2 linked regions of the Homo sapiens genome follow. The protein of the gene in region 1 purifies or fractionates together with the protein of each later gene. This does not show direct contact. Each region holds a gene or a part of one and is shown on either strand. Other genes may lie near its edges. The genes, in order: MTFR1 and PRMT2.

Region 1 (3,500 bases):
TCAAGAAGAGAAATGACTGAATGGTATACTTACTTTTGCCCTATGGATTTATTTGTAAAAGAACAGGATCTATTAAAATGTATAAGGTAGGGCCATGTGCGGTGGTGCACGCCTGTAATCCTAGGAGTTTGGGAGGCTAAGACAGGTGGATCACTTGAGGTCAAGAGTTCGGGACCAGCCTGGCCAACATGGTGAAACCCCGTCTCTACTAAAAATACAAAAAAATTAGCCAGGCATGGTGGCATTCACTTGTAATCCCAGCTACAGTAATCTCAGCTACTCAAGAGGCTGAAGCAGGAGAATCACTTGAACCTGGAGGGGGCAGAGGTTGCAGGGAGCCGAGATTGCTCCACTTCACTCCAGCCTGGGCGAAAGAGTGAAACTCCATCTCAAAAATAAATACATAATAGTAATAAGGTAAAAAGTTTGCTTAAATACTGTCTTAGAATTATTTGCCCATGTTTGTTCTTTTTTTGGTGGGTAGTCTGATGTTGACATTGTAGAACTTGCGAGGCTTCCCATTTTTCTCTAGTCAGATGTTTTCCTTTCCCTTAGTCCTCACGTTATTAAGACTACTTGTGTCATAATCCTGTATGATTATTGATGTGAATGATGTTTTCTTCTAAGCTTCAGAGTAACTTTGCTTCTTAACATTCTTTGTATACTATTCATATTTTAATATTTTTATCTTCCTTTCTACTTACCAGTTTTCTAATCTTTGCCATCCTTTTTATTTACATTTCCGAAGCAAGAGCTATCATTTTTGTTGGTTATTGGAGTCAGTATAGGTTATAAGTACTTTTTGGAACTCTTCTAGGTAAGATTCAGTGAAACTTTGGAAAATGTGTGATAAAAATTATATGAAAGCTATGGCAGGTGCCAGGGGTATTATATATCCTTCTATGATTTCCACTTTGTTGGTTTTTTTCTCAGGGGTTGGGGGGCGGGGGGACATGGTCTCACTCTGTTGCTTAGGCTGGAGTGCAGTGGTGCAATCCTAACTCACTGCAGCCTGGAACTCCTGGGCTCAAGGGACCTTCCTGCTTTAGACTCTCCTGTAGCTAGGATGACAGCATGCATCACCACCCCTGGCTAAGTTTCCAATTTTTTGTAGAGATGGCGGTCTCACAAAAAGACCCCAGGCTGGTCTCAAACTTCTGGCCACAAATGATCCTCCTACCTCAGCCTCCCAAAGCACTGAGATTACAGATGTTAGCTACTGTGCCCAGCCCTGAACCCCACACTGACTCATACTGTTATCCTTGAATTGGACTTGATTGCTAAAATTTAAGAAATCAGATAGTTTCTGTGCTCATTTTATAAGTTGTATATGCTTTTATCTAAGGGTCTAGTTTGAGTTAGGTTTTGGAGCCTCCACTGTTTACAGTGAACCGTTGTTTGGTTATGCTGTTTGTTTATATTGGGGTAATTTCATTCTTTAAAGTAGAATGATCACGGATTGATCTTAAAAAAGTGGTAGTATCCATTTCTCCAGAATTCATACTCAGCTGATTTGGTTCTTTTTAGTCTTTAGAATATAATTGTTTTTTGAGTTTTTATTTTGTTTTATTTTTGAGACAAGGTCTCGCTTTGTCACCCAGGCTGGAGTGCAGTGGTGCCATCTTGGCTCACTGCAACCTCCGCTTCCTGGGTTCAAGCAGTTCTCTTTTTTTTTTTTTTTTTTTTTTTTGAGACGGAGTCTCGCTCTGTCGCCCAGGCCGGACTGCGGACTGCAGTGGCGCAATCTCGGCTCACTGCAAGCTCCGCCTCCCGGGTTCACGCCATTCTCCTGCCTCAGCCTCCCGAGTAGCTGGGACTACAGGCGCCCGCCACCGTGCCCGGCTAATTTTTTGTATTTTTAGTAGAGACGGGGTTTCACCTTGTTAGCCAGGATGGTCTCGATCTCCTGACCTCATGATCCACCCGCCTCGGCCTCCCAAAGTGCTGGGATTACAGGCGTGAGCCACCGCGCCCGGCCTGGGTTCAAGCAGTTCTCATGCCTCAGCCTCCCAAGTAGCTGGGATTACAGGTGTGCACCACCATGCCTGGCTAATTTTTGTATTTTTAGTAGAGATGGGGTTTTGCCATGTTGGCCAGGCTGGTCTTGAACTCCTGGCCTCAGGTGATCCGCCCATTTTGGTGTCCCAAAGTGCTGGGATTACAGGCAGGAGCCGCCGCACCTGGCCTTACATAACTGAATGTTAAAGTTTGATGAATTAAGTATAATAGTCATATAATTCTTACTCTTTTCTTTTAAAATTGCTTTTAATAGCATACTACCTTTCTTTACTTATTCTGTCCAGGCTTTCAAGTGTAGCACTCAAAACAGATGAATAGTTTTTCCTTTAAAGAGGGGTCATATACTTGGGGAGAAGTTTCAAGGTACAATTTATAATGATTTACCTAACATTCAACACATGTGCTTTTTGTTGTTTTTGTTTTTTTTTTTTTTTTGCTTTGAGGGTTTGTTTTTGTCTTTAAGCATAGCATAATGTCCTGTTTTATTATGATTTCATCTGAGAAATTCTGCTCAGATGAAATTTCTTACCTTTCCTTTGGGGAGCAGGCCTCCCAAGAGCAATATGCCTGGATTTCAGCCTTTGCTCACCCTTGGCCAAGCATTCTTGTGCAGCAAACAACATGGAGCACCCTGCATGGTACACATTCAGATTCTGAACTTTGTACTAATTTGGGATTGTTTTGAAAAGTGTGTAACAGCAAAAGTAACATACATTTAATAAAAACTATGTATATCAAAATTCTAAAACTAAAAATATAGCAGAAGAGATAAAATAGTGTTTCTGTTGCAGAATAGTATGAAAACCTGATGAAAATAAAATTTTTACTGTAAGTATAGTATTTAAAAATTACTGGCTAGTTTATATTTTTATATAATACTTTACATTAAACTTTATTGAATTAATAATATCTATCTCTCTATCTATCTATATATTCTTTATTTTTGGATTGAGAAACATTAGCTTATTTGCCATAACATTTAGAGCATTCTGATCCTGTAATTAATGTGTTAGTATGTCATACAAATAATTGTCTAATGCTTTGTCTTAACAGTTCTGTACATCTTGTAATTAAGCTTTCGGTTTTTCCTACTTCCTCAGGTACTTTGGTCTAGGAAGCCATATGGTTCGTCTCGAAGTATCGTAAGGAAAATTGGTACTAATTTGTCTCTGATTCAGTGTCCAAGAGTTCAGTTTCAGGTATTATATTTTATATATTTTAAGTATTTTATTAATATGTACATTAGAAATATAAATAGGCAAGATGGTTTTAAAAGCATTTTGTTTTTGAGACTTTTCACCAATTGATGCCACTATCAATACAATAGAAGAGGATTAAAAACCACAGTAAAGCCTTTCTAATTTTAGTTTCTCTGTGACGTGATTGAGATTTTTAAGATATTTATCCTTCTTAAGGATGCATATGTGAAGATTTAGGAGCATATAATAAGCTAAGCAGTTGTTAATTCCTAGGTGACCTCA
Region 2 (4,019 bases), on another chromosome or scaffold:
GTTTATTTCAGTTGAGTAGAGAAACACGTGCACCCACATGTCTGTGCTGGGCCTTGGGTGTGGTTGGTCTCATGGGGTTGGGAGGGATGCACACGCTGGGCCCCCTCCCCACCCCTCTTAGGCCGTCTATACTGTGCTGAGCTGAGCCGAGCTGCAGCCTTGGAGACTCCTTACACAGTGGGTGGGGTCGCAGCACAGTGTCCACCCAAGTCCAGGCTCTGCAGGACCCAGGACCCAGCGCTTGGGTGCTTCCCACCAGACCCTTCCCTGAGAACCTGGGTTTGAAATTGTCTGACAGGCCTCAGATGTGGCACAGACCAGCATTGTCACTTGGGTGCTAAGAAGTTGCTGTGCTGGTCATGGATTAAGATTGCTGTGCGTGTGGCAGCCGGCTCGGGCATGCGAGTCTTCCATCCACTTGCAGCCCTGCGTCTGTGTCTTGTCCGGGAGGTGGGGGCAGTTGGGAGGGTTAGAGGCGGCTCCTTTCTGGGTGCCCCTGGAGGGGCAGGTGTGGCCAGTCCTCGCTGCCTCTGCTGTCTGGAATGCTGCTTCCCTCTTGTGTCATTGACCATTTCTCGTGATGCTGGTTGTGACTCAGGAGAGTAGATGACGGGCCGTGTGCCGGCCGGATGTACGCTGACGGTGCCTCTGCTGCTGCAGGTGTACGCGGTGGAGGCCAGTGAGATGGCACAGCACACGGGGCAGCTGGTCCTGCAGAACGGCTTTGCTGACATCATCACCGTGTACCAGCAGAAGGTGGAGGATGTGGTGCTGCCCGAGAAGGTGGACGTGCTGGTGTCTGAGTGGATGGGGACCTGCCTGCTGGTGAGGGCGGGCGTGCGGGCAGCTGGGGGCCGGAGCTGGGGGGCTTCTGAGCACGGGCTCGGCTGGGCCAACCTCAGGATCTCAAGGGTCGTGCGTGATTCATTTTGATGTTTTCCCTAATGTGAGGTCTAATTAATTTCTTGTGTGGACATTGGCTCAGTGTCTTGAATTTTCACCTGATTTAAAAAATGCCTTTATGAGAAATTTAAGTCAAAGTTCATGTAACATTTTCATGAGTGATTTACATGAACTGTGTTCTCCTCGGGGATCTGTAAAAATCCTGTGCCTAACAGGTAAGGCTGTTTCTTTAATGCCAGTAGGGCCTTCGTCCCTGGCCAGGGTCTCCTCGCCTTAGACTGGCCCCAGTGATGCTGTGAAGCCACTTGGGCATCTGTAGGGCCAGCATATGCCTGTCCTGTCAGGGTTGCTCACCCTGAGTTTCACATGTGGGTGGAAGTGGACTGTTTTCTGGTTGCCTGTGAATATGCCCTGCACAAACGCTGTCTGCTTGGAGGGAAGTTGACGGGAGTGTGGCTGGATGCTGTCTGCCCGCGCTGTCTTCCTGGGCTCAGCATCCTGGGACACAGGACATTGTAGTGGAGCATCCCAACCTGAAACTTTGTCTCAGTGTAGAGACCCAGAAAGATGGGGTCTGGGTGAAGGAGTGTGGAGTATGGCTGCTGCTTTCCAGGAAACGGTTTCCCCTGGTAACAGATGGCATTGGGCTTTTAGTCCTGTTGAAATTTTGTTGTCAGAAGATAAATGTAAATAGACTCAATGTCCATGCTGTGACTTGGCTTATTAATAACATCTGTGGAGCCATAAGATGACACACAGGAGAAACGGGCTCCACTCCTACCCCCTGAAGGGGCATTTGCCTTTGCCCTGAACAGCAGCGCCCATTCAATAAGTATCTGTTGACAGCTGGTGCCCCGGCCACGGGGACAAAAAGAGGACAGAGCAGGAGTGAGGCTGTGGTGAGGCCAAGGTTGTGTGGGCGGTGATACGGGGAAGCCTGGCTGCTGGAGTGTCCGGCTGTGCCCTGGATTGGGTGAGAGGGACACAGGAGGGACGTGGGGCAGAGGGAGGGGAGAGGAGTAGCCACTGTGTTCACCGTGTTGCCGTGTTCCAGGGCTGCCCAGTGGCCGGATTGGCCAGACTGTGTTGCATCAGGGAGGCAGAGGCCAGATGTAGGGAACTGTGTGTCTGAGGACTTTGTGCCACGTCCTGGACACCGAAGGGAGTGCCACTGGTGTGTGAGTGATGGAGTAAGAGGTGGGCTGTGTTTTGGAGGCCCCTGGGTATGTGTGGCCGGGACTGGAGGCCAGGGACTGGCTGTGGTCCAGCCCCAGCATGCAGAGAGGCCTGGGACATTCTGTGTGAGGGGAGGCCCCTCTGTGTGGGAGGTGCACAGACTTCCAGGACTGACCATGGCTTTATTGTCAGGATGCAGGAGCCAGGGCTTGGCATGGGGCAGGTGTGGGGGATGCAGAGCAGGGCCAGCAGGCAGGATGTGCTGATGGGGGCCTGGCGTGAGCAGGACGGTGCCTCCCAGCCCTGAGCCGCAGGGAGTGGGCCACCAGGACTGGCTGGGGGCCGGGGTAGGGAGGGCCCTGGGGAGGGTGGACATCTGTGTGGGTCTTGAACATAGGATGCCCATCCGATGTGCAGGGCCAGCTATTGGTTGGGCAGTGGGGACATGGCCTGGGGTCTCGGTGGGCGATGGCCTGGAGGGGCCACCCTGAGCAGGACATTTGGAGGAGTGCTGGGGTGAGTCAGACAGGACCATGTGGTGGTTTTCTCCAGTGCAGGCAGTGGAGGGGGAAGGCGGAGCTTTGCAGGTGAGGGCTTGAGGCAGTTCCGACTTCAGACTCCCCCCCAGGGAGACTGAGGGACCACCACCATCATTACTCAGGCCAAGGAGGCCCAGAACAGGGCAGACGGGGCTGCAAGAGTTCCTATGGCGATAGTTGTTGGGGCACAGGGTTGGTCGGATTTGAGGGAGGGAGGGTATGAATCTGGGAGTCGTTGGTGCGGTTGTACCCACCTTCACTTTCCGTCCCCAGGCTGCGCCTCTCCTGAGCTGCCGCATTCTCCCCTGCACCTGTGCGTCTGGCCCTCTTCACGTCCTCCTGGCCTGCTGTCTGCCTCTCCCCTGCACCTGTGCGTCTGTCCCTCTTCATGTCCTCCTTGCCTGCTGTCTGCCTGTTCTCAGAGCCCCTCAGCCCTCAGGCCTTCATCTCTCCTGGCCCATCTTCCTACTCTGACGCTGACATGTAGTAAAAGTCTGAAGACAGAGAAGAGTGCATGTGCGTTTAGCATAGGAGGGGCAGCTTTCAGTCAGTGCAGCAAGGGCATGTAGTTGTTCAGAGATGGTGCTGGAACGACTGATTTGGAGAAAAGAGGCCCTTCTTCACACCATCTGCTAAAATAAACCTCAGATGGGCTCAAGAGTTAAATATTTAAGAAAAGGAGGAAACAAAAAAATTGCTACAAGTTTATTTGTTGTTAGGATGGGAAAGGTTTTTCTAAGAACCAAGTTCATAATGAAGCTGTCAAATAAAATACTTGACAAAAAATTCCCCTTCATACATTAGCACAGCTAAAAACTATTAAATGGTAAATGCAACTAAAGAATTGCAGCTAAAGAATTGTGTGACGTAAAGAGTTGCAATAAGAAAAGCATAAGATAAAGGTAACCTCATGGAAGGTGAGCAGGGACTAGAAAGGCAGAGAAATGCCAGAGGCCAGGAGCTTGAACGTTGTTCAATGCCACCAACAATTTGAAAGTAACTGTAATAGTTTTGACCTGGGAAGTTGGCTGAGCAATCCTCTAATATCTGATGCTCCCGATGCTGAGGTTGTGGGGAAGTGTGCACCGCCATGCCCTTTTTTTGGCAGTGTAAATTGGTAAAGCCTTTTGAAGGAAAATAGGGCAGAATAAGTCAAAGAGCATTAAAATTTTTTTGTTTTTCCAGAAGCAGCAAAGTTCTGAAGGAGACGCAAGTAAAGATACCACAGGTGTCCTAGATTGTCAACAGACCATTTAATCATTTTTGTTAACAAAGCAGGTGACAATTGAGCCCTAATTTGCGTTATCATTAGTTGTTACAGGATCTTGCTTGTTCTCCTGAGGCCACGCCACGATTTCCGAGAAGCAGGTTGCACACTCAGCAGTCTCCCACTAGCCAGTG

The links.
Region 2: the proteins of MTFR1 (region 1) and PRMT2 purify together in Homo sapiens (co-immunoprecipitation; one large-scale study listed by IntAct). This does not show direct contact.

Annotation. Positions count from the first base shown.
Region 1 is NC_000008.11:65,679,234-65,682,733, forward strand, and holds part of MTFR1 (mitochondrial fission regulator 1 isoform 1 precursor), read left to right. Parts: intron 1-2,810; exon of another isoform or gene 2,811-2,847; intron 2,848-3,119; coding exon 3,120-3,218; intron 3,219-3,500. UniProt on the Homo sapiens protein: May play a role in mitochondrial aerobic respiration. May also regulate mitochondrial organization and fission.
Region 2 is NC_000021.9:46,648,915-46,652,933, forward strand, and holds part of PRMT2 (protein arginine N-methyltransferase 2), read left to right. Parts: intron 1-660; coding exon 661-825; intron 826-2,891; coding exon of another isoform or gene 2,892-3,092; exon of another isoform or gene 3,093-3,930; coding exon of another isoform or gene 3,931-4,019. UniProt on the Homo sapiens protein: Arginine methyltransferase that methylates the guanidino nitrogens of arginyl residues in proteins such as STAT3, FBL, histone H4. Acts as a coactivator (with NCOA2) of the androgen receptor (AR)-mediated transactivation.